Linked DNA regions of Homo sapiens. The protein of the gene in region 1 interacts with the protein of each later gene in a biochemical or structural test. Each region holds a gene or a part of one and is shown on either strand. Other genes may lie near its edges.

Region 1 (15,478 bases):
CCAGCTCCTCATTCAGGCAGGCTCAGCACTCCAAGTCCTTGGAAAAGCCCTCTGTTTCTAGGAGCTGGGGATGGCAGGAGCTGAATGTCCCCCCGCCACCCCAACTTCTCTTCTGAGACTGGGATTTGTTTAGACTCTTCACCAAGGAGGCCAGCAAAGGGCCCCTCCCCTCATCAATGGGCTCTCTGGGCAGGAAGGACCCTTGGAAGGCAATGGTCCAGCCTCCTTATTTTAGAGTTGGGGACACTGAGACCCAGAGACAGGGCATGTTTGCTCAAGGTCACCCAGCAACGCAGAAGTAGGACCTAAGGTATCTACCTTCAAACCCAGCAAATTTCCTCATCTGGAATATTCTGAGGACACTCAAACCAGACACCTTGCCCTATCAGAAGGACCTGGTTCTGACCTTAGGAAGCCACTGCATTGTTCCGAGCATCAATTTCCTGTAAAAATAGAGAAAATGGTACCTCGCAGTACTGGGAGATACTCATACTAGCAATAAATAACAGTAATGAACCATTTAGAATAAAGTTACATGCACGAATTTATTCATTCATACAAGCATTTCCTGAGTACAAACTAGGGGACAGGTATTTCACAAAAACAAATAGAGCAGAGTTCCTGCCCTCAGTGTGCGGGGGGAGAGAGGGAGGGATTCAGCATTTGGTGGAGTATGTTAATTCCCTCAAGTTAATTCCTTCAAGAGAGAGACCTCTTTTGAATAGTAGGTACTTAAGTTATTAATCAAATTGAGAGATGGAAAGGACTCTGGAGGCTACCCTGTTCAAACCTTTCATTTTAAGGTGGGGGATGTCAGCCCAGCGGGGAAAGAGGCCTCCCCCCAACCTCATGGAACCCTCCAAATCATGGCCCAAATATTTTCGTGGGTGTTTGATAACTCCCTGGGCTCAAGAAGTCCCAAGAGCTCTCACTGTTCACTCAAGGGTCCTAGAAGCCCCTAGGCTTCCGCCCCCACCCCTACTCCCATGTAATCAAGAAGAGGACGCTGTAGAAGACCAGAAATGTCCTTAAGCTAAAGTACACTTGATAGGTGATAGGTGGGGGACACTTCCCCACAACCGCCTGGGCCCGGGGCCAAGTCAGTAGGCTGTGCCCCTGGGTAGGAACACCTTTGGGTGGAGGGGACTCCCAAAACAAGGCTGCCTTTAATTGGCCTGAGAGGGAGTGGCAGGAAGGCAGATCAGGGAATGCTCCCAGCTGGACAGGAAGAACTGGTTTAGTATAGCAAGCCCAGCCAAACAGAGGAGAGGACAGCTGGGTACTGAGCCTGGGTTCCCTTCCAAAATATGGGGGTGGTAAGGGGAATGATGGAACAGTCGGGGGAACACCACCCACAATGGGAGGGCTACTAGTCAGAGATCCTGGGGTCCTGGATGCCCTCTACTAACCCAAAGTAGTACCATTTTACCTCTCACATTTGGGAAGTGGGCATAATAGAATCCCCATGTGACAGGTCTTTTTGTGAGGACAAAATGCACCAGATCTGTCATATAAAAAGTACTCTATCACTCCTAACTGCTATTAGCAAAGTCCTTCTCCCTGGGCCTCACTTTTCTCTACCTGCAAAAAGAAAAGGACACGCTGGATCATCTCTTCAGTCCGAGCCAACCGTGACTATGTCTGATTTTTCCAACCACAATCTAGAAAAGAGGGAGGGGACAGGCCAAAGGGGAAGCCCTGTGCCCCAGTTACAGGCAGGAGGTCTGTGACATTAGCCAGGAAGGGGAGAGCTGAGGTCAGGATGAGACTTGACACCTATCTCAGGAAGCAGCTGCCCAGGGCTGATGTCTCCTGCAGCTGATGGGTCACCCAGGCAGGACTGACACAGTCCCCTTCCCCCAAACTACATCCTTCAGAATGCCCCCAGGACACAGCTGACTGCTCAGCACCCTGAAGCACCTGAAGGCTCAGCAGCCCCTGGGAGGAAACTGGCATGTGACTGGGCACACGGTGACCTCAGCAACCTCCTGGGTCCTTTCCTCTTTTTCCCTGTACTGCCTAGGTGGTATCCCTTCGGATGCTTCCCCAGTTGCTTGACCCGACACATCCTTCAGGGCCTAGTTTAGAGCACTGTGCTAGAGGCAGAAGGCTTGGGTCCTCAGCCACTAACATTTTAGGCAAGGTAGCCTTTGGTTTAGGTTAAGTCATCACCTCACTCTGGCCTTGTTTCCTTCCACCTCAGAATTCCTTTGCCTTCCAGCCTAAAATCTCAACCTATTCTAAACCCGTCTTTAGTTACCAACGATGGGACACCTGGAGTAGCACAAAGAGTAGAAGTTAAGCTAAAGCAGAAACTTGAAAGCCTGGCTGCCTAAATTTCAATCTGACTCACCCATTTATTGTGTATTAACTGTGTGACCCTGGGCAAGTTACTTAACCTCTCTAGCCTCAGGACCAGTTTAAGAACAGTACACAGTAAGATTGTTGTTGGAATTAAGCTCCTGGATATACCCATTAGAAAGTTATTAGAGCAATGTCTGGCCCCCCGACAAAGGCGCTCCACGTTTGCAATCATCATGGCATGCCTGGAATTGTGCTGGAAGTATTGCCTAGGGTCTCATTCATTCCTCAAGAAGAGCCTGCAGGCAGAATCAACCTTCCGCTAAGTAAATTCAGAGGAACAGGAGCCCCAAGGCTTTCAAAGAAATTAACATTAATGGTTAAACTGCAAGGACTCACTCGCTCTGAAAACTGGGGCTAAAGGGCACAAAGGGGGCACAAAGCTCAGGCTGTGGGGGACAGATTGCCTTCACCAGTAATTCCCATGCCCCCCAACTTCCCAGATGAGATTGCCCCCCTCCTCCTAAGCCGGCTGCGGGCATGGATAGAGCTTCTGCTGGCCCAGGGACAGCTATGACGGAGGCCAGTGGACAGTGAGAAGGAAAGGTTTCCCTGGGCTGATTGAGGCCTTCTCTCCCCCCTACCCCCTTCACCTCACTCAAGGTGGATGCTTCAATTTTCTTATCTGCAATTGAGAAAAAATGAACACACTTCTTGCAGAAAGCAGAGGCTCAGCTCCTGGCTAAGTGTTGAGTCTAAACCATTCCTCTCCTCTGTCCTCGAAAAGAGCAGAGTCCCCAACTTTCTAGAAACCCTAACGCAGTGTCCCCTCTTGCCCCATTCCCTCAGACCCTTGGTGCAGTATTGGGAAGAGATTCAGAAGGGCAGGACTTTGCCCTAAGTCACAAGTCAATGACAGAGCTGGGGCCAGAACTGAGGTTAGGGCTCAGTTCTCCTTGGTGTGTGAAAGAGGGCCTCGCACAACCCTAAAACCCTCCCCCTTCCGAGTACACGCAGCCCCCCGACCCCCAGGGCCATCTCGGATCCTAAAGCTGTCTGCTCTGGGCGCCCCGAGAGCGAGGAGGGGATTCAGCGCTCCAAGCCTGCCCCAGGGTCACCAGGGAAGGGACGAGGGTGTGGGAGTTGAAGAGTTGACACCGGCTTAGTCACTAACGAGCCCGTAGCCCGCGGCGGGGCTGAGGCCCGGGGAGGCGGGAAGAGCAACAGGCGAGGGGCGCACGGCGCGTGAAGCCATCCCGGAGGCTGGCCCGTGACCCCGGAGCAAAGTTTCCAACAAAGTTTCCCGGGCCTCGGTGTCCGGTTGGGGGTAGCGTACCCCCGATCTGCCCCCCCCCATCCCACGCTCCGACGAACAAAGGAGGCACCGGCCTGCGCCCCCGCTTCGCCCCCAGCCCGGGAACCTCCAAGCACCCACCGACTCGGCGACTCCGCCTACGAAGAACAGCAGCAGCGCGAACAGACGGGCGGGGGCCATGGCACCGCGGACTGGAGAAGGCGCGCAGGCTGCGGCGAGTGGCCCCGGGCGGGCGCGCCACCCATCTTATAGGCGGCCTACCGGCCCCGCCCCGGCCCGCCCCCGCCCCGCCGCCCGCACCCCGCCCGGAATTCCCCAGTGGAAGCGAGGCCTGCGGGGCACTGCGCCCGCCCGCGGAGTTGGAAACCCCAAGGGACCCGCCCTGCCCGAGCCCGCCGGCTCCTACTCAACCCCTAGTCCTACCCTCCGGGAGCTCCAACTCCCTTTATTTATTTGACCCACTGCCAGGCAGGTCCCCAGAGATCACTGCGGCTAACCCCATTTTATAGTTGGGGAAACTAAGGCCCAGGGACGGGAAGGACTTCCCTAGGGTGTTGAGTTTAGACCAGCCTTCATACCGGGTGTGCTCCCCTCTGAAGACACAGAACTTCCCAAATGGGATGTGAACCGTGTTAAGACAGGGGACAGCAAACTATTCTGTAAAGGGCTAAATATTTTAGGTTTTGCGGGCCATACGATCCCTGTGGCAACTATTCAAACTCGAGCGTCGTAGCTCAAAAGCAGCCATAAATACTAAAGGAATGAGGGCAGCTAGGTCCTAATAAAACATTATTTATAGACACCGACATTTGAATTTAATATAATTTTCATGTGTCACGAAATATTATTATTCTTTTGACTTTATTCCCAACCATTTAAACATGCAAAAATCGGCTGGGCTCTATGGCTCACGCCTGTAATCCCAGCACTTTGGGAGGCCGAGGAATAGGAGGATCCCTTGAGCCCAGGAATTGGAGACCAGCCTGGGCAACCATAATGAGACCCCCATCTCTACAAAAAGTTTTTAAAGAAATTAACCAGGCATTGTGGTGCACCCCTGTGGCCCAGCTACTCTGGAGGCTGAGGTGGGAGGACTGCTTGAGCCAGAGAGGTGAAAGTTGCAGTGAGCCATGATCGCTCACTGCACTCCAGCCTGGGTGACCGAGTGAGACCCTGTCTCAAAAATAAATAAATAAATAAATAAATAAATAAATAAATAAATAAATGACATTTTATAATAAAAATGCAGGCCGGATGCAGTGAGTCATGCCTGTAATCCCAGCACTTTGGGAGGCTGAGGCGGCGGATCACTTGAGCTCAGGAGTTTGAGACCAGCCTGGCCAACATGCTGAAACCCCGTCTCTACAAAATACAAAAATTATCCAGGCATGGTTGCCTGCGCCTGTAATCCCAACTGCTCTGGAGGCTGAGGCAGGAGAATCGTTTGAACCCGAGGGGCGGAGGTTGCAGTGAACTGAGATCTCCCCACTGCACTCCAGCCTGGGCAACAGAGCAAAACTCCGTCTCAAAAAAATAAAAAATAAAAATGCAAAAACCATTCTTAGCAGTGGGCTGAACAAAAATAGGCGGTGGGCCTCAGCCACTCTGAGACCACTCTGACGCTGGTCTCAGAGTGGCTGACGTCTGTTCTAAGGGCTTCATCTACCAGATTTTGAACTTTTTCAAAAGTTTGATCTCTCTGAGAACTGGTCTGCAAGTTTATTTCCATTCTTAGGGTAAGCTTCCACCCTTTATAAGAGAAAGTTGTGTGTCCTCCTTACCCTTCATCCTCCTAACAGTGCATTGGTGGGAGCAGGTTGAGGGAAGAAGTGGAGGGGGGTGCTATATGGAGACTGTAAAATTCTCTGGGTCCCCAAGCACACGTACTGTTGGAATTATTGCAGGGTGTGAAGGTGGGCATTCTACGATGATCGAAGTACAAAAGAAGCCTAACCCTGTCTCTCCCTGACTTATGTATAAATCTTTCTAAGGGTGTAACATAGCCTTAGAAGTAGGACATTTTGGCCACTGTTGGCATATTATGAATTCATATACTTTGTGGAGTGGAGAATTGGTAGTGACTTCCCTTTTTCCACCTCTTAATTATTATCAAAGAATAAAAGTCTCTTGTGGCAGAGAACCTTGGCAGTAAAGCAAACTTCAAATGCTGACCACGGGGTTTCCACAGATTTAAAGGTAAGCAATGACTTTCAGTGGTTTTTAACATGCTTCCCTAGGATTTGGAACAAAACTGAGAAAATGAAGAAATCTCATGCCAGAATAAGAAATCCTTTTGCAAGTTAAATGGTTTGCAATCTTTGCTTTCCACAAAATTGCAGGGGGGCCTAATCTAGTTGTCAGTAGATAGATCATTAAATATAGAATAGGTAACTGTGATTTTAGTTATCTATTGTCACACTGTTGTAACAAGAGTTCTTCTGTTCCTACCAACTTTTATAAGTTTCTCAGCACTTACAGCCAGTGGTGTGCCAGTAAATGTTTGACAATTGGCTAGGGGAAGTGGCGAGTGCTAATTTGCCAATTTCTGTAGTGTAAATACTACCAGCATGGCTGATTTCAAGCTACCAATGAGATGTCACTGAACATGGAGCTGGGAAGATATATTTCTACCACACAGATACAATAGGTGCAAATAATCTCAAAAGCATGGATAACAGTAAAGTGTAGTGAGATAATTAGTAAGTGATGAGTTTTGAGTATTTATTTCCTTTATGGTTTTGTTTTTGTTTTTGTTTTTTTGAGACGGAGTCTCAATTTGTCACCCAGGCTGGAGTGCGGTGACGCAATCTCGGCTCACTGCAACCTCCGCCTCCCAAGTTCAAGCGATTCTCCTCAGCCTCCAGAGTAGCTGGGACTACAGGCACACACCACCATGCCCGGCTAATTTTTGTATTTTCAGTAGAGACAGGGTTTCACCATGTTGGCCAGGATGGTCTCGATATCCTGACCTCGTGATCTACCCGCCTCAGCCTCTCAAAGTGCTGGGATTACAGGTGTGAGCAACTGTACCCGGCCTCCTTTTTTTTTAATATAATTGTATGTTCATATAAATTAATTTTTAGTAATAGTTATGTTTAACAACTGGCTAATGACATAAAAAAAAAAGCAACAAAAAAAAAACAGGATCTCTCTCTGTAGCCCAGGCTGGAGTGCAGTGGCAAAATTATGGCTGATTGCAGCCTCAACCTCCCAGGCTCACGAGATCCTCCCACCTCAGCCTCCTGAGTAGTTGGGACTAGACATACGCCACCACGCACAGCTAATTATTATTATTATTGTTATTGTTATTATTATTATTATTATTATTATTTTGGTAGAGACACAGTCTTACTATGTTGCCCAGGCTGGGTTTGAAGGCCTGGGCTCAAGCAGTCCTCTCAACTTAGCTTCCCAAAGTGCTGGGATTACATGGCACCCAGCCACAAAATTTCTAAAAATTGACTTTCATGAACCACTACAAGATGGCTTTACCACACCATGGTTTGACAGCTATAAAAAATGAAAAATAGGAATAAAATTATTGCTAAAACCTGTTTCATTCTAGCAATATTCGTTGAGGTGTTTGTTTGTTTGTTTGTTTTTGACAAAGTCTCACTCCATCACCCAGGCTGGAGTGCAGTGGCACAACCTCTGCTCACTGCAACCTTAGCCTCCTGAGTTCAAGTGATTCTTGTGCCTCAGCCTCCCAAGTAGCTGGAATTACAGGTGCACATCACCATGCCTAGCTAATTTTAGTATTTTTAGTAGAGATGGGGTTTCGCCACATTGGCCAGGCTTGTCTCAAACTCCTGACTTCAAGTGACCCGCGTGCCTCGGCCTTCCAAAGTGCTGGTATTACAGGCATGAGCGACTATACCCAATCTCATGGAGGTTTTAGTGAGCTAATTGGAGAGAAAAATTGCCACAGCCACCTAATTAAGACAGGTATTTCTAAAACAACTTTACTTTTTCTACTTAATAATTATTTATCAAAGTTTGTAGGACTGGTTTAGAGAGTGATGTGATTTGGATGTTTGTCCCCTCCAAATCTCATGTTGAAATGTGATTCCTAATGTTGGAGGTGGGGCCTGGAGGTGACTGGATCCTGGGGCAGATCCCTCATGAATAGTTTAGCATTATCCACTTGGTGATAAATGAATTCTCACTCTCAGTTCACGCTGGATCTGGTTGTTTAAGAGTCTGGGAACTCCACCTTCCCTGTCTCTTGGTCCTGATGATGCCATGTGAGATGTCTGCTACCCCATTACCTTCCGCCATGATTGGAAGTTTCCTGAGCCCCTCGCCAGAAGCAAATGCTGGAGCCATGCTTGTATAGCCTGCAGAACTGTAAGCCAATTAAACCTCTTTTCTTTATAAATTACCCAATCTCATATATTTATAGTAACGCAAACAGCCTAACACAGCAAGCATATATTTATGTCAATTGTATACTTTAAATATGTATAGCTTATTTTATGCCAGTTGTACCTTAATGAAGCTGTTTAAATTATTGCAGGACTTTTTAAAAGAGTCATCAGTAAGCCTCTGACGCATTAAAAAAAAACACATTATGATAAAATTTTGTGGTGGAACATGGAGTAGAAATTTGACTTCAAATAGAAAAAGAAATGATGCAAAATGTCTGACTCTTAGAAAAGAGCTTGTTCATGTATTTTTTAAATGGATGATTGTAGGTATCGAATTGCTAGGGCATTTAATTTAACTGGATACATTTAAAAGAGTGATGTAATTGTTTTACTTTTACGTGTATAAATTTACAATATGCCAGAAATTACAACCTTTGCAACTATTTAAACTTTTGATGAAAAATGTTAAGCTATCAACTAAAAATTATGTCAAGGAGTACCTAGTCTTAAAATAATCATTTACAGAGTACACTAGCAAAAAAACAAAAACAAAAACTGAAAACAGCTCGTTTAGAGAGTTAATGGAAGTTCTTCTATAAAACTATCTTAACCTCCTGGAATTAAGGAAATAATTTCCCCTTCCCCAAGTTCTGAGAATCTCTAAAGGGATGCAACATGTTTGAATATAATTATTTGTGGATGTATGGGTCTTTAACCTGGGCTCCATGACTGGGGGCAGAGGACACATGCATGGTCAGTACTCCTCTAGGTTATGTGTCTCTGCATACATTATTTTGGGGCAAGAAACTTCAGATTCTTTCTTTATATCCACAAAAAGAGGATGTTTGGGGGATCCTCCTTTTGGGTGATCCTGACCCCCAAAGAGTTAAAAATAATTTGTCCAAAACCTGAGATTCTTTGAGAAGTTTTATTGGGTTCTTCTTTGGCCTCCAAAAAACAAAATGCAGTAGTCAAAGGTTTGTAATACTGAATAGGAGTTCCTAATTTCCTGCATGGGGCTGAGGTACAAAAACCCAAACAACCAAACAAAACCCACAGTGTTTACAGCCAGAAGTTCTTCATTAAAATCCTGTTTCCAGGACTTGCCAACTGGAGGAAAGTTTGTGAGTCCCTTTGCTCCTCCCTACAATGGAGATAATTCCCTCTTGAACTAATTAGGAGAATGGAATAAGGTGAAGTGGTGAACACATAACATATACTCACCTATGTTGGGTCCAGCACTCTTTCTGTATATTCTAACCTGAGATTGAGTGAGTCTGAGAGATGGCATTGGTCAAACACTTTACATCCTCCCCCTAGCTTCCTTTCAAGCAAAAGGAAATGATCTAGGACATCAACAGGCAGCCCCCTCCCATGGAGCTAAAAAATGAGCTCAGACCCAGCCTATAGCAGAGGTGGTGTCCCTCCCCCTTTTCTCAGACTTCCTAGGCCGGAGTTAACCAAGGCTAGGTGCACACCTGGTACATCCAGAGACACCTTAAATGCTACCTTCTCCTGGAATCCTCCATCCTCTTCTTTTAATTCTCATTTCTTCCTGCCTTGAGGTTTCTAGGACTCTATCTGTCCCACTCTTTGGGCAGGCATCCCTTTCTCACTCATGTTAGTTTTAGGTGAAGAGCACAGTCTTCAAAGTTAAAGAGACCTAGATTGCAATCTTGGTGGTATGGAGCAAGACACTTTTTCTCTCTGTGCCTCAGTTTTCTCATGTGTCCCCCCATGTAATTTGAGGGTCATTATAGTTCTTAACATCATAAAAATGTTAAGACTACAGTGCTTAGCACAATACGGAGCATCAAAGTGTTATCTATTTTTATAATCAAGGGGGCCTCCCCATAAGAGTCTTGACTTACTCCCCTCCCCAGCAGCTCCTCACACATGGTTAATAACAGGTAACACATTACTATTTTCAGAACAGAAAAAGGATTGGGCCATAGGGCTCTCGCCCAGGATGGTGCCAACCCTTTCTGGTCTTCCTCAGTTTATGTAAATCTCTCTCCAGCTACAGATAATGACAGCTTAGAGTTTCCAGGGGCTGTGGAATGTCCAGCCACTGCCTTGCATAACCACAGAAACTAAGAACACTAGGCCCAGAAGGGTCCTCTCAAATCATTCAGTCCAACAGTACCCGCATTATAAGATAGGCAAACCGAGGCCCACACGGTGAATCAGCATCCACCACAGGCATTTTGAAGAATTCTAAAAATAACACCTCCAATTACTCTTTCCACTTGCTTTGCTTTATTTTTTTGTCGTAACATTTCCCTTACCTGCCATCACGCACTTATTCTTTTACTTGTTTATTTTCTGTTTTCTCTGCCACATGTAAGTTTCATGAGGGCAAGAACATTGTTGTGTTCACAACTGCATCCCTTGCACCTTGTCCAAGGTCTGGCAGAGGTTTACATTCAGTAAATACTTGTCGCATGGATAACTGGATGAATGCCATTTGGACATTTTCCCTTAGAGGCTCAGATGTAGCAATTCACTCACTTGGTCATTTATCCAAAAAACATCTGATGAATATCTTGTATGTGAGAAGCTTTTTGATAAATCCTGGTGAACAAGACCTGTCCGTGTTCTTAAGCAGCTCCCTGATTAGCGGACAATAGCTGCCAGCTATACAGTAGACTGAGGATCTACTATATGCCAAGCTGTGGGCTGGCAACTTTATATGCATCTTCTCTGTCTTAGCTCAGTTCTTGCAATTGCGAGGAAACATGCCTCACTCAGGACTCCTTAAGAAAAGGCTTAGGAGTTATTAGGAGGACCGGGAGGGCTAAAGGTTAAAACTGAAAGGGAAACATCAAGGACTGAGATGATGCCACAGACTGGCTGACTCATCTCTTGCTCTTTAAGCCTGCTTATTCTTTCTTTAAGAGTGTCTCTTCTTTTTCCTGGATGTGTGCCTCTCTCTCTTTTACTGACTTACTGGTTCTCTCTTCTAGTCTAAATTTTGGGAGGGGACCACAAGACTCATTGGCTTGGCCAATGGCCTTCCTTATTCCTTAAGTAAGCGCCTGCAGCCCAGACCACTTTTTGGATTACTATTTGGCCTAGAGGTTGAACATTTAGCTTCTCACATACCCTGAGCAGAGTGTATGTTTAATCAGAAGGGAGTGTTGAGCATCATCTTCACTTGGATGCTGTGAAGTAAGTAGTTTTATCTCTATTTTACAGATGAGAAAACAGGCGGAGCAAGGAGAAATGACAACAAAACCGTAACTGTAACAAAGCTGCCCTAACCCACCTGCAAATCTACAATTGAGAAATCCATTTCTGTTGCCCCTGAGATTTGTGGGGTGTTTGTTAAGTAGCAAAAGCTGACTGATACAAGATTCAAACTCAAGTTTCTTTGATTCTGTCTGCATCACCATGCTGTCTCACTGAACTTACAGCCCTGATTCCTGTTCCTGATTCCCAAGTGTCCTGTCCTAAAAGGAGCAGAGATAAATATTGTATTCATCCATTTTCTGATGTTATAACAGAATCCCACACTGTTGGTGTTCTGAGTATACTGACATTCCTTGACGCTAGATTTTATATTGTTGATTGACTTGTTTATCATCTCTCTCCTCTATGAGATTAGAGTATTTTCTCTTTATTCACTTTATTCATTTATATCCATACCACCTGGATCAGTTTCTGGCACATAATAAATGCTCAATGAATATTTATCAAGTAGATGATTGAATGAATAAATAATGATAAAAAGGAAGTGTAAAAAAACAACTTTTCATCTTAAAACAAGGCCCTGAGTCCTTTAAGGTCAGAATAAAGAATAATTTCTAGGTAGGGACAGAAAGTTTAGTACATGATGGATGGGGTCAAGAATCAAGGTAAGAAAACTTGAAGGTGTGAGGCTGGGCACAGTGTCTCATGCCTGTAACCCCAGCCCTCTGGGAGGCCATGGCATGAGGATCACGTGAGCCCAGAAGTTTGAGACCAGCCTGGGCAACATAGTGAGATTCCTTTTCTACATAAAATAAAATAAAAATAGCCAGGCCTGATGGTATGCACCTGTAGTCCCAGCTACTCAGGAGGTTGAGGTGGGAAGATTGCTTCAGCCCCGGAGTGTGAGCCTGCAGTGAGATATGATAGCGCCACTGCACTCCAGCCTGGGTGACAGAGCAAGGACCTGTCTCTAAAATAACAACAAAGGCCGGGCACAGTGGCTTACACCTGTAATCCCAACACTTTAGGAGGCTGAGGTGGGCAGATCACCTGAGGTCAGGAGTTCGAAACCAGCCTGACCAACATGGTGAAACCCCGTCTCTACTAAAAATACAAAATTAGCCGGGCATGGTGGCACATGCCTGTAAATCCTAGCTAGTCAGGAGGCTGAGGTAGGAGAATCACTTGAACCCAGGAGGCGGAGGTTGCAGTGAGCCAAGATCACACCGTTACACTCTAGACTGAGCAACAAGAGTGAAACTCCGTCTTAAAAATAAAATAAAATAAAACAACAGTACAACAATGAAAATAATACAAATAAAAATTAAAATATAGTTTCACAACTATTTACATTGTATTAGATGTTTAGAGATGACTTAAAGAATGTGGGAAGATTGCATAGACTATATGCAAATACTATACCATTTTATATAAAGGATTTGAGCTTCTCTGGGTTTTCATATCTGCCAGGAGTCCTGGAACCAACCACCCATGGATGCTGAGGGATGGCTGTACTCAGAGGTCCTTCCACCCACTGTCATGCCTGGCATCATCCACCCTGCATAGATAGAGGGTTTGCAGAAAACCCCTGATCATTAGACACAGAACACAGAAAACCAGTTTCCTGACTCCCTCTGGTGTGAAGGAAAGAACAGGGAGGTTGGGGTGGAAAGTTAGAGTGGAAAGACAGACACCCCAGATGTTTCTTAACTTTTGATTATTCCAGCTGACAAGACATGCCACACCTCAATGTGTACTGAGTGTGAGTCACTTCCTTCTCTAAGCCTCAATTTCCTTACCTGTAACATGTGGACAATGTTTATACCTACATCCCTGGGGCTGTTGCAACAATAAGATGAGGTCAGGTAGATGAAAGCTGTATGTCACTGTAATGTCCAGTGCCTTTTTTTTTTTTTGAGACAGAGTCTCACTCTGTCACCCAGGCTGGAGTGCAGTGGTACAATCTCAGCTCACTGCAACCTCTGCCTCGCAGGTTCAAGCAATTCTCCTGCCTCAGCCTCCCAAGTAGCTGGGATTACAGGCATGCACCACCACTCCTGGCTAATTTTTGTATTTTTTGTACAGACAGGGTTTCTCCATGTTGGCCAGGCTGGCCGCCAACTCCTGATTGCAGGTGGATCCACCCACCTCAGCCTCCCAAAGTGTTGGAATTACAGGCATGAACCACCTTGCCTGGCCTTCAGTGCGCTTTTTGTTACACACTGAGAAGGAATAGTGTGTGGAGTCAAACTGGCCTGGGTTGGAGTTCAGCTCTACCACTCACTGGCAGCATGGCTCTGGGTAAATGTCCCTTCTCTGAGCCTCAGGATCTGCATGTGTTCAGTGGGGCTATTAATAGTTCTCAACTCACAGGCTTGTTTTAGAAATTAAATAAGGATTAAATTATATAAGTGCCTGTCATACAGTAGATGCTCAGCAAATATTCCTCCCCAAACACAGACACAAACAGCACTTAAAGCAACCTGGGTAACAAAGGGGTTTTCGGTCTGGAGGAGAAACCAGGCAGCTAATGAGCTCTCTCTCCAGTTTTCCTTCTAAGAGAGGAACTCACTGGCCAGAGCCCAGGATGGTCACCGATGTAGAGGACAGGCAGCCAACTCCAAGCCTCCCACGTGGGGTTTCCAAAAACCTGTGAGCACAGAGTTGCATAACGTGTCCCTGAGACACGTGTTTCTACTGAAGTGTCTTCATCAAATATTCCCTGAAAGGAAACATGTGAGCAGGGCAGTAGGGCAGCCTAGCGGGGGAGGAAGGGAGAGGGGGAGGAAGGGAGAGAGGGAGGGATCTAGAGAACACGACAGTAGGGGTGAGAGGAGGAAGAGAAGGTATCACATTTAATGTGCTCTTACTATGGGCCAGCCACCGGGCTTGACTTGTCTGATACATTGTTAGATCCTTGCCATAAATCTGAGATCAGGCATTTCCGTTCCCACATTCCAGAGGAAGAAATAATAACAATCATATTAACATTGCTGAGGTTAACATAGTGCCCACTGCATATCAGGCAGTGGACTAAGCACACATTTGACCCTCAGGACAGCCCATAACATGGGTACTATTCTGAACTCCACTTTATAGAAGAGGAAACCAACTGAGACTCAGAGACATGAAGTAACTTTCCCAAGGTCACCCAGCAGGACAGCAAGACAGCCAGAGAGCCAGGATTCGAATCTAAGCAGGGCTCTCAAGCCTATGGGCCTATGGGAGAACATTTCCCAAGGGATTTATGGGGGTGGATCCAGAAGGTGACCTTAGCGATTGTCCTTACATGCATGCAGTGGGGCCCCAGTGTGAAAGTGACGAAAGAGACCAAGTGACCAGAGGCACTCCCCTCCCCTCCACCCAAAGGACAGTTTGTCCCAGCTTGTGGCTTTTCGTCACTCTGCCTCTGACCTGAAGTTTAACATTTCATTCATAAGTTTGGAACCACAGACTTGGCAGCGTAGGAAGAACCCTCGTAGACCAGCTAGCTATTCAAATCCAATCCCCTCATATTACAGATGGAAGAAAACCCTGAAGCCGGAATGTGACTCGCCAAGGTCACAGAGCAGTTTTCTGTTGGATGAAGGAGCCGGTTTAGGGTCAACTACAGATCATCTTGTGCTGTAGTTATCAAATGTGGGTGCACCTCTGAATCACTTGGGGAGCTCTCTAAATACACAGATTTCCACACTCTGCTTTGGGAGACTTGAACTGGACTTAGGTTTGCAAACAAGGACTGGAAATTTGAATATCCAGTATGTTCCTCAGGTGATTCAGATGGCACAGGGCCATGACAGCATCTGCAAGTCGGAGTCCAATGTCCCTCTTTCATTTGATAGTTTGGGATACTGGGACCCACCAGGGGACTCGCCCAAGGTCACATAGCAAGCCAGTGGGGCTCTAGTTCAGACTCTGTGGTCTGAAGCAGACTGCTTGTGGTCAAATTTGAAAATGGGCCAATGAAGCTAAACAAAGGGGTTGCCATGATTTTCCCCAGCTCTTGGTTTCCTTCTTGGATCCAAATTAAGACGGAGGATGATGTACATTTCCGAAGCTTGGCAAGGCGGGAATCCAAGAACTGAACTCCCAAAGGGGAAAGGAAAGGGCAGGAGGTTAGCTTGCACGCCCAGTGGGGTTTTCCCAGAGGTGAGCTCCGGACTCCAGGGATGACATCAGACATTCCAGCCAGCCCTAATATCAAAAGCTACCTGTGTTTTCTAGTTCAGCAGAATGGGTAGGCAGGGCCTTTCCTATTGGGAGGAGATGGGGTGGAGTGGGCCCAGCTGTGACGTGAAGGGAG
Region 2 (15,850 bases), on another chromosome or scaffold:
AGTGAAATTATTCTGTATGATGATATAATAGTGGATACGTGTCATTATACATTTGTCCAAGCCCACAGAATGAACAACCATAGGAGTGAACTCTGATGTCAACTATAGACTTTGGGAGATAATGATGTAACATTGTAGGCTCATTGATTGCAACAAATGTACCACTCCAGTGCAGAGTGTTGATAGTGGGCGGGGCAATGCATGTGTGGGAGCAGGGGATGTATGGAAACTCTGTATTTTCCACTCAGTTTTGCTGTGAACCTAAAATTGCTCTAAAATATAAAGACTATATTTTTGTTTTTGTTTTGTTTTGTTTTTTGAGATGGACTTTCACTCTTTTCACCGAGGCTGGAGTGCAATGGCATGATCTCTGCTCACTGCAGCCTCCGCCTCCTGGGTTCAAGCGATTCTCCTGCGTCAGCCTCCTGAGTAGCTAGGATTACAGGCATGCGCCACCATGCCCGGCTAATTTTGTATTTTTAGTAGAGACCGGGTTTCTCCATGTTGGTCAGGCTGGTCTCAAACTCCCCACCTCAGGTGATCCACCCGCCTCGGCCTCCCAAAGTGCTGGGATTACCTGCGTGAGACACCGCGCCCGACCAAGACTATCTTTAAGAAATTGGAATACAGCACTTCAGAATATTGGGGGACTCTCAGATCTCTTCTTATATAAAGGGTAATTGTCACAGCATCCATTAAGGGGCAGTGACACCGCTGCACACACCACCTTGAAGATTCTGATTCTCTTTGGACCTGTGTCACTTTGTAGAATGCATTCCCCGAGGACCCGAGTTTTAAACTCGACATGCAAGCATCTTCTCCTTTTACTCCAAACCATCTTTCGGGGGGGCTTGACGACTTAACTCCTTCGTCTTTGTGAACACAAAAGATCAACTAATCTTTCTGAGGTCTTTTTCTTCTCCTGATGTGAGGCCTTCCAACTTTAAAGGAGCAGAACTCTGATGTTTTAGCAATAAGGAGTTTTTTTGGTTGTTAGCTGCGTCTGCCTTTTTCTGTTTTTGTTTTTCCCCATATCAGGAGTTCTCACTTCATAAAATACCGTGTACCATTTCTAATACCCACATTTTTTGGTAATAGGGTCATAGTAGGACAAAGATGTTTTTATGACAATGTAGAAAGTTTACCCTTTGTTGGTTAAGCTCCATCATGCTCCAAGGGAAGTAAAGACTTAGTTTTCCTAACTGGAAAATAAGAATTATCAAATTATAGAATTAGCACCGGCCGGGCGCGGTCGCTCACACCTGTAATCCCAGCACTTTGGGAGGCCGAGGCGGGCGGATCACGAGGTCAGGAGATCGAGACCATCCTAGCTAACACGGTGAAACCCCGTCTCTACTAAAAATTAGCCGGGCGTGGCGGCGTGTGCCTGTAGTCCCAGCTACTCGGGAGGCTGAGGCAGGAGAATGGCGTGAACCTGGGGGGCGGAGCTTGCAGTGAGCCGAGATCGCGCCACTACACTCCAGACTGGGCGACAGAGCCAGACTCCGTCTCAAAAAAAAAAAAAAAAAAAGAGAGAGAGCACCTTAGGAATCATCTGCCTCACACGAATATTCTGTAAGTAAGGAACTAGAAAGGAGAACTGACTTGTCAGAGGGCACACAGCTAATTAATAGAAAAGTTAAGACTAGAAACCCATAACTATTCATTCCAATCCAGTGTTATTACACTATAGACACAGCACAAACTTATTGGGAAAGCCAAAAAAAAAAAAAAAAAAGGCTCCCAGCTATTATAAAAATGCATCCAATCTTTATGTTTAGATGGAGTGGCTATAGACTTAAGTAAGTAAATGTTTTTTGCTGAATTTGTGCTTTATCTCTTGCAGCTTATCTCAGATATGGTAGGAATGTAGCCCTTTCAAGACCTCTCAAAATTATTCAGCTACATGAATAAATTCAACTTCAACTTCTAAATGCCTACGAGGTGCTAGCATTGAGGACCCAAAGACAAATAAGATGCTCTCTTTTTTACAGAGGAGTTCACCATCTAATGATCCAAAAAGACACGCATACAACCAGACAAAGTTCCCCATAATGAGAGCATGTTTTAAGGTCCCAGTGCAGAGTATCACATCCTACCTGGAAAGGTTAGGGATGGAGGCTTCCCCTGAAGAGGCCATTTGGGCTGTTTATTGAAGGATGAGGAAGATTCCACCAGAGGGAGGAGGTGAAGGAGGCGGAGGACATTCCAGGCAGAGGAGGGAGCATGAGCAAAGCGTAGAGGCATGAAAGTACTGGCTATTTTTGGAGAACAGTGATTAGACTGAAGAGGTTGGTAGATAGGATAAAGGAAAGTGGGATGGTGGGAGAAGAAGTGGGAAAGTTAATCTGGAGCAAGATGAAGAAATTTGAAAATGATGTCAAAATTTTTAACATGATCTTATAGTAAGGGGGCACTAACAGAAGTCTGCGAGCTGAAGGGTGCCATCATCAGATCCAGGTTTTGAAAGATGACTCTGGTGGTGGTGTAACAAATGGAAGGGAAGTGGGAAACCTGGGTGGGGGGCTTCTGAAAAAGTCTAGGCAATACATCTGAACTGGGGCAATAAGAAGAGGAGGCACAAAGGAAGGGCTAAATTCAAAAGACATTGAAGTGCCTGTTGTTGACACAGGTGAAGAGTCATAAAGACTACACAGCCCATGGAAACACCTCCTAAGACAATCCCACTGATCCACTCTGAACCTCTGCAATTTGATTTACTTCTGTCGATTTGCTGGCCATGTGATACCCACTTTGGGGACTTGTGCTGCTCCAGGCTTCTCCTAAAGGCTTTGTACCAGCTGAATAGCAAATGTAGGCACAGCCTCTTCTGAATCTGTCGGACTGTTTCTGTAAAACCCTGCTAATCTCTCAGTGCAAGATAAAGTTAAGCTGGTACGTTGGCTATGTGGGTGCTCAGCCCCACCCTGTCCTCTCTCCCAACTACATAATGCCAACTAGATCAAATTCTGACTAAAGCAATTCTACTAGTTAAAATTTCCATCAGAGCATTGGCTCTGGAACAGAGAATCTGAGTTCAAGGTTTGACTTTACCATATACTAGCTGTGTAACCTAACTTCTCAAACAAAGTTCTTCATCTATAAAAAGGGGATAATAACACCTATATCTTCCCTTTGATTCAGAGAGAGGCAGAAACAGAGATAAAGGGACACAGAGGAGAGAAATTGCACCCAAGAGAGAATCAAACACATCATAGTGCTTTTAAGCTGAAAACACTGTTATCACAGCAAGCAGTGAATGGCCATGAAAATAAGGAGGCCCGTTTTTAAAAATCTGGATGATGTAAATAAATGAGCCATTTGTTTCATCAAGTCTCATTTCATTTCAGTAAAGATGACATTTGTTATTATTTCTTGGAAAAAAAGAACCATCTTGATGCACTTATGTGTTGCTTTGCCCATTTCCATGCTTTTCACAGACGCAACGCATGGTCAGGAGCAACCTCTGAATGGTAGGTTAGAGTTAATTCTCTTTTTGAAATAAGAGCCAGTGACAAATATCAGACCACTGGTGCACAGAAATAGTGAAAAGCCCTAGTTACTCAAAGAATGTGGCTGACATTGAATACATTATGGTCCAATTATGTTTCTTTTCAGAGCGGTTTAGATGAGCAGATGGAAGCTGAGATTCCCAAGCCTGCAAGTCCCTCTCACAAAATGTTCCCTCTTTTATGTGGCATGGTTTAGATCAGTGATTCTCAAAGTAGGAGGTGGGGAGCCCCCTAGGAAACATGAGAAATAATGCTAGAGTATGAGACAAAAGATTGAGACTTGTATTCTATTTAATATCTTTTTAGTGCATCATTGTGAATATGTTTTATACTGTGTGTGTGTTTGTGCACGTGTGTATTGCTCAAAAATGTTTTATGAGGGGACCATAATCAAACACATTTTGGAACCATGTTGTGGAAGGGTTTTGGGTTAGATCTGGGTTTGAATTTCCTCATCACCTTTGTGATGTGTGTTTCCCCCTGACTTACTAATTTTTAGTTATCCTAAGGAATACGAATGAGGAAGCAATGGATACTGGTCCTAACATCGCCGTGAATTTCCCGTTGACCTAACTGTGTGGCGTAAGAGATTTAGTTCATTTTCATGGACTGCATTTATTTCATTCCTCATTCATACCAGGGGAAGAATAATAATGCCTTCTTGACAAAGTTCTTGTGAGGATTAAATAAATCACTGTTTCTAATTGAGCTCTCTTTTTCTGATTTGGGGTATAAAGGCAGTGTTTTAAGGCATGTGATTTCAGGTCGCCCTCACTGTCCTGGTTCACGCTTTTGCCTGGTCTCCTTCATGCCCTCTGTTTCTCAATGGTTCACCTGTTTATGGTAATTCTGGGAACAATGAGGCAGAAACAGCAGGTTCCAGTCCCAGCACCACCAATTCACTTGCCATTGAGTGGACGTTCAGCTTGTACTGATTGAGCACCCTGCTGTGTGCACAACACGGGCTTACTGTCACCTATTCCTCATAGCATCTCAAAAGGGATTTAGGAATTTCTTCACTTTTCAGATTCAGAAGATGTAGAGCAGTGCTGTCCAAGAGACCTTTCTGCAGTGATGGAAGCATTCTGTAGCTATCCTCTTCACTGTGGAGGCACTAGTCACATGTGGCTGTTAAGCACTTGGAATGTGGCTTCTGTGACTGAGAAACTGACTTTTACATTCTACGTATCTTAAATAATTTCAACTTATATAGCCACGTGCAGTTATGGCTACTGTGTTGGACAGCACAGTGCTGGAGAATGCTGACAGACCCTAGAACTCCAGAAAGTGATTTAAAAGAAAATAAATTAGAGAGAACACTGAAAACAACACCATAAAAAGAAGTGTCCACTAACAAGTGAGAAATTTCAAAGAATTCCAGAGAGAAAGCAGAAGGCTGTGGATTAACAGAGCGAGAAGTCCTGGCCACAGCAGTGTAGCAGCGTGTGGCGAGGCAGGAGCTGTCCTGGGACATCCCAAACTTGCATGTCCTGGGACATGCAGAGTGGAAGGCACCCTGGGCTATCACAAGGGTGATGGATAAGAAGATGGGTCCAGGGCTAGGAGCTTTCCTCACTTTCCAGTGTGGCTCCAGACTAAGGGGCCAGAAATCCCAGGGAACTCCCCATAGAACCAGTGACCTCCAGAGAGAGTGGGACAGCTCACACCCAGGAAACACACCGCCACTGCACACACCTGGTAGCAGGCTCCATCCCTGTCCCACAGTCCCTGCGGGAAAGCTCCTTTAATCAGAGGTGGTATCCACCAAAAGGAAAACAGAAATTCTCAAATGACATGGTAAACACATATCCAAAAATCCCAAATATAGTTGAAAAACCAGCACTATGAAGATGAAACACCAAACTCAACACACAAAAGAACAAATATCCAAGAAAACATAATTGATAGAGCAAACAAAGAAGACTTCCCCCAAGTTAGTATAATGAATATCCCCAGAGAGATGCAAGATGATATGTCATTTATAAAGCAAGGATGGGCTATATGAAAAAATTAGGTATCTTAAAAATTATAAATGTAATTATTTTAAAATCAGTAGATGAGCTGAGCAGAATGTACATGGAGGAAATGCAAATTAGTTCCATGTAAGATTGAGCTAAGGAATTCTCCCTTAATAAACATAAAAGGACAAAGAAATTCTAACTTCTAATGAGAGTTTCAGCAAGAGGAAACATTACATATAGGGAGGGATTAATGAGAGAAATAATAAAAGGAAATTTCCTAAAGGAAAAAAAGTGAGTTTTCAAGTTGAACTCATCCACTAAATTTCAAGCAAAATAAAATTTAAAAGGCCGTAACACAGGAAATTGTCATAAAATTCAAGAGAAGATCCTGAAAGTTTCTAGAGGAAACAAGACAAGTCAATAAAGGAACATGAATATGACTGGCACCAAACTGTCATGTACGTTACTAAAAATAATTGAAGACAGTTTTCAAAGGTCTGACTGAAAATTATTTTGGATAGAGATTCCTAAATTTAACCAAACTAGCATTCAAGTGAAAGCAAAATGAAGACTATGAGGGGCGGGATAGTGTCCCTCCAAAATTCGTATGTTGAAGTCCTAACTCCCAGTAGCTCAGAACGGGACTGTATTTAGAGATAGGGTTCTTAAAGAGGTAATTAAGTTAAAATGAAATCATATGGGTGGCTCCTAATCCAATATGACTGCTGTCCTTGTAAGAAGAGGAAATTAGGACCCAGATACACAAGGAAGACCGTGTGCAGATACAGAGAGAAAACAGCCATCTACATTCAGAAGAAACCAACCCTGCCAGCACGTTGGTCTTGAACTTCCAGTTGCTGGAATTGTGCAAAAATAAGTTTCTGTTGTTTAAACCAGCCTGTCTATGGCATTTGTTACATTATGTGATAATTCAGTAAGTTTACAGCAGACTCTCTCAATGAATTCATCGAGAATGATTTACCTCACACACACACACACACACACACACACACACACATGCACACACACAGAATTAAAAATGTAAGGTACAAAAAGTAAATAAAGAACAGTAATTGGGAGGCTGAGTTGGTTGGATCACCTGAGGTCAGGAGTTCGACATCAGCCTGGCCAACACGGTGAAACCCCGTTTCTACTAAAAATACAAAAATTAGCCAGGCATGGTGGTGGGCACCTGTAACCCCAGCTACTTGGGAGGCTGAGGCAGGAGAATCACTTGAACCCAGGAGGCAGAGGTTGCAGTGAGCTGAGACTGCGCCACTGCACTCCAGCCTGGGTGACAAGAGCAAAACTCCATCTCAAAAAACAAACAACAACAATAACAAAACAGTAATTGAGTGAAGAAAGCACTAAAATTTATCATTAGGTTTAAGTAAGTACTAACCCATAATGAACAAAACTAATTACAATCCAAAACTGAAACTACACATCATGTTGTGGGGAGGTGTGTAAAGGCAAGTTCAGAATGTGCAAAGAGGGCAAGACGTGACGGTCAAAGTGCAGCATTCATTTCAAGCAAGGAAGCTCCTTTTATTTTTTAATGCTTAATTATAACTTTATTTTTTCCTTTGTTCTCCTAAAAAAATAAAACGGGATACATGTGCAGAGTGTGCAGGTTTGTTACATAGGCATACGTGTGCCACGGTGGTTTCTGCACCTATTGATCCATCCTCTAAGTTCCCTCTCCTCACCCATCCCCCACCCCACAGCAGGCCCTGGGGTGTGTTGTTCCCCTCTCTGTGTCCATGTGTTCTCATTGTTCAACTCCAACTTATGCATGGAAGCTCCTCTTTATTTATTTATTTATTTATTTATTTATTTATTTATTATGCTTTAAGTTTTAGGGCACATGTGCACAATGTGCAGGTTAGCTACATATGTATGCATGTGCCATGTTGGTGTGCTGCACCCATTAACTCGTCATTTAGCATTAGGTATATCTCCTAATGCTATCCCTACCCCCCCCCCCCCACCCCACAACAGGCCCCGGTGTGTGAGTTCCACTTCCTTGTCCATGTGTTGTCATTGTTCAATTCCCACCTATGAGTGAGAACATGCGGTGTTTGGTTTTTTGTCCTTGTGATAGTTTGCTGAGAATGATGGTTTCCAGCTTCATCCATGTCCCTATAAAGGACATGAACTCATCATTTTTTATGGCTGCATAGTATTCCATGGTGTATATGTGCCACATTTTCTTAATCCAGTCTATCATTGTTGGGCATTTGGGTTGGTTCCAAGTCTTTGCTATTGTGAATAGTGCCACAGTAAACATAAGTGTGCATGTGTCTTTATAGCAGCATGATTTATAATCCTTTGGGTATATACCCAGTAATGGGATGGCTGGGTCAAATGGTATTTCTAGTTCTAGATCCCTGAGGAATCACCACACTGACTTCCACAATGGTTGAACTAGTTTACAGTCCCACCAACAGTGTAAAAGTGTTCCTATTTCTCCACATCCTCTCCAGCAACTGTTTCCTGACTTTTTAATGATCGCCATTCTAACTGGTGTGAGATGGTATCTCATCGTGGTTTTGATTTGCATTTCTCAGACCTAAAACCATAAAAACCCTAGAAGAAAACCTAGGCAATACCATTCAGGACATAGGCATGGGCAAGGACTTCATGTCTAAAACACCAAAAGCAATGGCAACAAAACCAAAATTGACAAATGGGATCTAATTAAACTAAAGAGCTTCTGCACAGCAAAAGAAACTACCATCAGAGTGAACAGGCAACCTACAAAAATGGGAGAAAATTTTTGCAATCTACTCATCTGACAAAGGGCTAATATCCAGAATCTACAATGAACTCAAACAAATTTACAAGAAAAAAAAACAGACAACCCCATCAACAAGTGGGCGAAGGATAGGAACAGACACTTCTCAAAAGAAGACATTTATGCAGCCAAAAGACACATGAAAAAATGCTCATCATCACTGGAAGCTCCTCTTTTATCTGCTTTATATACTGATTTTCCTCTTATCTACAGAAAAAAGTATTCTGATGCAAACACACACACAAAAAAAATTTTAAAGCTACTATTGGTTGACCAGTTTCAGTGACTCAAGCCTGTAATCTCAGCACATTGAGAGGCCGAGGTGGGCAGATCACTTGACCCCAAAGTTTGAGACCAGCCTAGGCAAAATGGTGAAACCACATCCCTACAAAAAAATTAGCCAGGCGTGCTGGTGTGCGCCTATAGTCCCAGCTACTCAGGAGGCTGAGACAGGAGGATTGCTTGAGCCCAAAAGATCGAGGCTGCAGTGAGCTGTGATCATGCCACTGTACTCCAGCTTAGGCAACAGAACGGGACCATTTCTCTAAACAAACAAACAAACAAACAAACAAAAGCCACTATCCTAGACGATTTCTAAAGTCCTTTCTAGCTTTAACTTTCTAAAATCCTCGTGATTGCCTCGTCTTTATGATGAAGATGCCATTTAGTGAAAACACAGACCACGGATATCTCATAGGAGGCTATGCCACGGCCGTCTTTGTGAAATTACTGCAACCTTCTTGACAGTGAAATATTCTATCCTTCAACAATTGCTTTGTGGGCAGGTAACCAAAGGGCTAATATCTGATGTGAAGGCTGGATCATGAACCTCCCGGTTGGGTTCTACATGTACCTTACCTCAACATCCGGGTCAACATGAGTGGAAGGGGCTTGGTGCCTCAGTTTCCTCATCTATAACATGAAGAATTGGTCTTCACATCTCTGAACCTCTTGTCAGCTTTTCAATGCCATAATTTATATCAGTCCCTGGTGCTTGATCAAATTTAAACGGTGTGAATTCCAGACAAAGAAAAATTAGACCTCCAAAGAAAATATGGGTCTACAGAGACATATCAAGATGTTATAAATATAATGTGATGATGATAAATATGCACTGCTGTATCAAATTCTTAAATAGAAAAGGATAATAACAAAGTAAATCAAAACTTTTTAGAGAAAACTTCGTTTCCTAGGATAGATGGAGTGACAGGTCCCAAGTGATGTGCCAACCTTTTTTCTCCCAAGCTTCTTTGAAGAGATTATCTAAGTATCGTTTCAGACACCCATCACCCTTATTTTTAGCTCTGAGTTCTCTTCACGAGTGTGGTGACCTGTGGCTCTAAGTTCCAGAGGCTCCCAGATATGGCACATGACTCATTTGCAGGTACCCTGCAATGATTTCCAGGAAGGTCAGTGGGGTGGGGGCCTGGAGAAATGATTTTTGATGTTAAACCCTTAGCTCTTGTTCCTGTTCCAACCACTTGATCAGAAATGACACACTTCATAAATTGATCCCTTGGTGCCATAAGCAATTGGCAGTGCAAATAGAACCCAAGTGATTCGGTTCTCCAAGAGGCTCACAGCTGGCTGGGGGGTTGGGGGAGACAAAACTCAGGGCTTTGGTCACAGTCTATTTTCAGCCCCTGATAGCAGTTGTGTTACTCACGTCTCATTCACCCTCTCCCTTGGCCTCCCTCCTGCCCTTCCCCCAGCAGGCCAAGGCTGGTGACAGCCTTCATATATTTAAAGAGGACAAGAGCCCCTCAGACTCAGTTGAGCTGAACGGAGTCCACACAGGCAGGTGAGTGGAGCAAGGCAGACATTTGAGCTGGAGGTGGGTTGGTTCTGTGGCTGGTTTGGACTATAAAGGGTCCCATAGAGTAAGAGCACATTTTACGTCTCAAGTGCCAGCACCCTCTCTGGTTCTGTGCAAGGAGGCTCAAGTTGTACTTGACTCTGGTGTGGATCTAGCAGGTATTAAAAAATTCCTGCAAGGATGGTTAATATTTAGGGGGCTTAAGGGACCTCATAGGCAGATAAATGAGTAAAGAATTATCCTCATTATAAAACTACTTACGTGGTGGAATTACATTTCCTGTCATCTTAGTTGGAACAACTGGAAAGCGGGAGGAAATAATGGAAAGTCTGCTGACCTTCTCGTCTTACAACCACCATATAATTCATGGATGACAGACTTTGAGAAGGTTCCTGCCCTCAGGGGCTTGGTCTCCTCTTCTGCAAGGATCAATACAAATTGGCGACATTTTTTCCAAACTGTAAAGTACTGCACAGATACAAAGCGATAAGCGATTGTACTAGATGCAATATATAAGACAGCTTTCCCATGCTCAATTTACCTGGAATGGTGTTATTCAAAAGGTCGTGGTGAATGACTGAGATTTTGGGCTTGTTGATTTTAAATAGACTTTTGTATCCCAAAGATATTCAGCAACAAGTTTGCTTTTAATCTTTTGAAATTAATCAAAACTGGACCCCAAAAAGACATTGCTATGTTGAAATATATTAAAAGCTCTATTAAATGGGAGGATAATTTATCCAGTGGTTAGGATTCCCACTGTTTCCTCTAGGTTTTAGTCAAGGACTTTTTAAAATATCCCAGTGAATGACAGACATAGGTGTGATTGAGAATAAGAAGAGGTTTTAAGCAATGGTCTGAGTGGAAATGCTGCTGAAAGATCCAAGCTGCCGACTCTAATTTCTGCCCTGTTCCTGAGCCAAGGTGGTGACTCCTCCAAGAAGGAGGAGTTGAGTTACTGGTCTGAGGAACCTTGTCTCTGCAATACGATTCAATGTAATTTAATAAGCATGTATGGACCATCTCCTATGTCAGGGCTGGAGGGAGGTAGAGGCAGCTCTATGCAGGGAAGGGTATAAGTGAACAGCACGAAGAGTGGGAAATTGGGGATGGCCTGTGTCCTCAGTTTACATCTGGGATTAAATCTCAATGCTGGGTACATACAATTCATCACAATGCATGTAGAACTGCTTTATGATCCAGAAAATGTGAGGGAGTCTTATGACTTGGCTTTGTTCCCTTTCTGAACAACTCAGTCGTTTGTGGTCAGTGGCAATGAGCCCAGGCTATTGGGCAGGAGGTGTAGCTGAGCCCCAGGGCTTTGTGTCCTCCCTGGGGTTCAGGCAGACAGGTGCTCTGCAGCCCAGACACACGTGTCATCCATCAGAAACAGGAGACACAGGGCAAGGGGCCTCCTCCTTCGAAGGAGAGAAGGGGGGAAGGAAAGAGAGAAGGAGGGAGGGAGGAAGGGAGGAAGAGAGGAATGAAGGAAGAGGGAGCTGCAGCAGCATTCAGCCAGCAAATAGCCAAAATTCCCTTGGAGGAAGTGGAGACAGAATCTTGATAGAATAGAAACTCAGAAATCCTGGGATATTCAAGAAGAAAATAAAGATAATCAGTTATAGAGCCCGTTCAAATTATAGCTCTGAATATCACTTAACTTATCTGAGTTTCCATTTTCTGAACAATAAAACTAAGGGTAGCCTACCTCTATCAAAGGGACTTGTGAGAATTGAATGAGATAAAGTATAGGAAAGTACTTTTGTAAAGTTTAATATAACCGTACAAATATGTGAGAACGTTGAGAAAAGGCATACAGCCAAACCCAGTGGGTTTTGGGGGGGTTTCCTGCTAAGTACAAGCGTGCTGATAAAAGTCCAGAGGTCAGAGTGGGTAAGAAGCTGACCAGGAGTTAGAAGATAATTAATTTGTTTTACAAGAGGAAAGACCCAGGGCTAGGAATATAACACACAGGAAATACAAGTCTTGAGGCAGACAGATTTCCAGTTACAAGTGTGCTGTTCAGATATCTGTGAATAAATACTGTATAGAGGGTTGGGCTTCATGCACAAAGAGAAATGTGATGCCTGCAAATGTGAAAAACTGCAGTTATTCATCCCAGTGAAGAATGGCAGGAAGGGAGACAGTAATGGTCTTAAAGGGCATTGAGGATGGAGCCTTTTCTGAGCTTTACTGTGGGAAAGGGTTGATCATGATTTGATGGTCGTTTATGGCCTAGGCAGGCATGGAACGAGTACTAGCTTATTTAAGGGTCACAAAAAGTTATGCAAAACTCATTTTTCAGAGGAAGAAACTAAAGTTCTAGAAAGCTTAGGAATTGCCCAGCATCACATGGCTGAGAAAGCGGCAGAGCCAGGAGGTAAACTGGGATATGATGTGGTCTTTAGAAATAAATTGTAGAGGTCAAAATAGAACAAAGAGTGAGTTTTGGGAAGTAAAAGCTGGCCACGCTTCAGATATAATTTCACAAAAGGTGTAAGATGCCCATGTTCTACAGCCTTCATTTAATGTATGTCTACCATGTCTGAGTTTAAAAGGGGCTGAGAGCCAACACTCAGGTTTATTTCCATGCTGGCAATGAGCAACCTGTTCTTCCTGGGCTCTGTGAAAGGGCCTCTGGCCGGAGGACGTCATATATCTGGGTTCAGAAGCTCAGGAGGAAGCAGCCACTGACCTTGAATGTCCTACACCGAGAACTGAAGGGCATGAGCTCCCCAGACTACAGGGCCCCTGGCTAGGCATGCTGCCTCCAACCCAATCCAACAACGCAAGGGGACCGACTCTCACCCCGACCTGGGCACACCTGTCCTGGGGCACCGCACACTCCAAAGGCTGAAAAACAAAGCTGATTCACAGTCTGAACCAGAAGGGCCATGGAAAACAAGCAGGGAGTGAGTTGTTTGTTCTAAAAGAACAGACTTGAAAACTGGAGATAATGTAATAACAACAATAATAGTCATGATGCAAGTAACTACAATTATTCAATTCCTGCTATGTATTAAGTAATTCTATATGGTGTCTTAGCTATTATTATCTTCTTTAACCTGAAAACAACCTTCCCAGACAAGCCTTCTCATATTGTCTTTACATGAGGACATGCATTGAGGACACTGGGTCAGAGAATTTGAGCAACTTGCCCAGTGTTCAACAGTTAGTGTTTCTGAACTTAAGCTTGGTTCTTCCAAAGCCCATGGTTTTCACTGTGGCTATGTCATCTTTCTTACCCAAATTAAGAGTGAATAAAGGAGAGGGTTTGAGAGGGCACCCCATTGGGCAGCTTTTCTGCAAAGTGAGGTTTCAATCACTTTTCAGATCCTTAAATCTGTCTCAGGGCTTAAAGGACCCTTGAAGGGACTTCACTGTATAGCAGCCACTTGGACATCCGTCCCCACCTCAGCTGAAAATCAATAGTGCAGAAGAAATCTCCAGTTCCAAGGAAGCCCTTTCCATGTTGAACAGCCGTAACTCAGAAAGTCATTGATTTCAGTGAATGAATTCAGTTTCCCTGTTAGTCCCACCCTTGAATACCCTCTGTGTCCCATGGAGAGACAATGGATTGGTCACGTCTCAATTCCCATCAACTGGGAAGTCTGGGTGATGGAGGTGCTGACCCTTGTCCTCTCTCCAGTGTTATAAACAGGAGCATGAGATACAGAACCAGCTTAACGGGGGGTTAAATGGCAGCTCTTCCAATTACTAGCTGTGTGACCTTGGAAAAGCTACTTAAGCTCTTCAGTTCTCTTATCCATAAAAATGGAAATAAAATTTGCTCTGGGCAGCTGTTGTAAGTATTAAAAAATAATATATGTAAAGCAACTGACATAAAATAATATATGTAAAGCTTTGGAGTCAGAGAAACGTAAGTTCCAATCTATTCATGTGACACATATCAGTCCCATGAACTTGGACTAATGTAATTTCCCAAAGCCTCCATTTCCTCATCTGTAAAGTAAATGTTATAATAGCACCTACCTTGAAGGGTTGTTGTGAAGATTAAACGATACCCAAGGGCAGTGCTCCAGGCATGTTAACTTCAATAATAAAGTTAGAAATGACTATTACTATCGCTTAGATTCCATATATATATATATATATGTTCCTATGATCCAAAATCTTTGCTTCAGCCAGTGTAGACAATTGAACTCACTGCAGGAAATCAGGCATCTAGTAGGATGACCAACTGAGCTAGCACTGAGCTGAAAACGGTGGCATTGTGGCACTGTGGCTTGAGGTCTCTGCCCAAAGTCATGGCCTAAAGTTCCCTCCTGGGTGCTCATTTTATGTACCCACCACTTTTGCCCTAACTCATCATTGCTCAGCTTTATAGTTGGTAGTGAAAGAAGAAAGAAAGAAAGAAAGAAAGAAAGAAAGAAAGAAAGAAAGAAAGAAAGAAAGAAAGAAAGAAAGAAAGAAAGAGGAAAAGAGGGAGAGAAAGAGATGGAGAGAGGAAGGGAGGGAAGGAAAGGAAAAAGGATGGAAAGAAGGAGGGAAGGAAGGAAGGAAGGAAGGAAGGAAGGAAGGAAGGAAGGGAGGGAGGGAGGGAGGGAGGGAGGGAGGGAGGGAGGGAGGGAGGGAGGGAGAAATAGTTGGATTAGGAAGAATGTGCCCAAAATACACAGTTTAGTTATTCTTTTGAAAATTCAGATTGATGAATAACAACTTAAAATTGTGGGAGAACCTAATTGGTTCTCACATTTTATATTACTCTACAATTTACAGAATGATATGACAGTACTTGAACTAATAGGGTCCTCTCAGCAATAGTGAAATCAAAAGGATTATTGCCCTCATTCTAGTGAAGACACTGAAGTTCAGAGAGATTGAACGGTTTTCCCAGATCACACAGCTTCGAAGAGGCAAAATGGAACTAGAACTCCAGCCTCTGGCACCTGATCCAGTGTTTTTCCCACTGCCCCACTGAAGCACATTCCTAGTATAATCTCTTCTATGGTATTAGTTACATCTTAGTTTAAAAGTGGGCACAAGGTAGTCTCTCACCGGGATCTGAGTATCCAAATCTGGAGTCCAACCTCTTCCAAGTTGATGTCACAGGGCTGTCCATTCTATCTCATCCTCGTAAATTCCAGACTGTCCCCCATTTCAATCTTGACCCACGATTTGTCTTTGACAACATAGTCATCTCAGGGACTGGCCCAGAGAGTCGTGCCAGGTGGTATGATGGAGATTGTGACCCAGGTTACAAACAGGGCCGAGTGACGGGCAAGCCTATAATTGTATCCCACCTTCAATGACCCTTGCCAGTACCAGGCAACGCTGATAAACAAATGGCCCATCCCTTGGTACCTTGCCAGGGTAAGCTCACATTCTGGGAGTGTCTAGGGGAGTGTTGGGACACAAGAATTCCAAAGCAATGCGGGAAGCTGAAAAGGTTATGTTCATAAGCCAGGACCTAACTGGGATTTCAAATCATAGCTCCTTAATTAGCACATTGGTGCCATTTGAGTAACCTAAAGTGAAGTGGGAAAAAATAATTTCTCAATACTGCTTTAAATTCCATCATATTTCCATGACCTTCACAATGGTCCTGCCCAGGAGATACTATTATCAACATTTTTTACCCGAGTTCAAGGTCGAGATTAGAATCCATGTCTCTGGATTCCGAATGCCTTTTTATTTATTTATTTACTTATTTTTTCAGATGGAGTCTCACTCTGTCGCCAGGCTGGAGTGCAGTGGCGCAATCTCAGCTCACTGCAACTTCCACCTCCTGGGTTCAAGTGAT

What was found.
Region 2: the proteins of SDC4 (region 1) and CSRP3 form a complex in vitro, tested with the Homo sapiens proteins (one study listed by IntAct).

The regions. Positions count from the first base shown.
Region 1 is NC_000020.11:45,344,589-45,360,066, forward strand, and holds the start of SDC4 (syndecan-4 precursor), read right to left. Parts: upstream 3,837-15,478; 5' UTR 3,797-3,836; coding exon 3,737-3,796; intron 1-3,736. UniProt on the Homo sapiens protein: Cell surface proteoglycan which regulates exosome biogenesis in concert with SDCBP and PDCD6IP.
Region 2 is NC_000011.10:19,196,175-19,212,024, reverse strand, and holds the start of CSRP3 (cysteine and glycine-rich protein 3), read left to right. Parts: upstream 1-10,041; 5' UTR 10,042-10,071; intron 10,072-15,105; exon of another isoform or gene 15,106-15,312; intron 15,313-15,850. UniProt on the Homo sapiens protein: Positive regulator of myogenesis. Acts as a cofactor for myogenic bHLH transcription factors such as MYOD1, and probably MYOG and MYF6.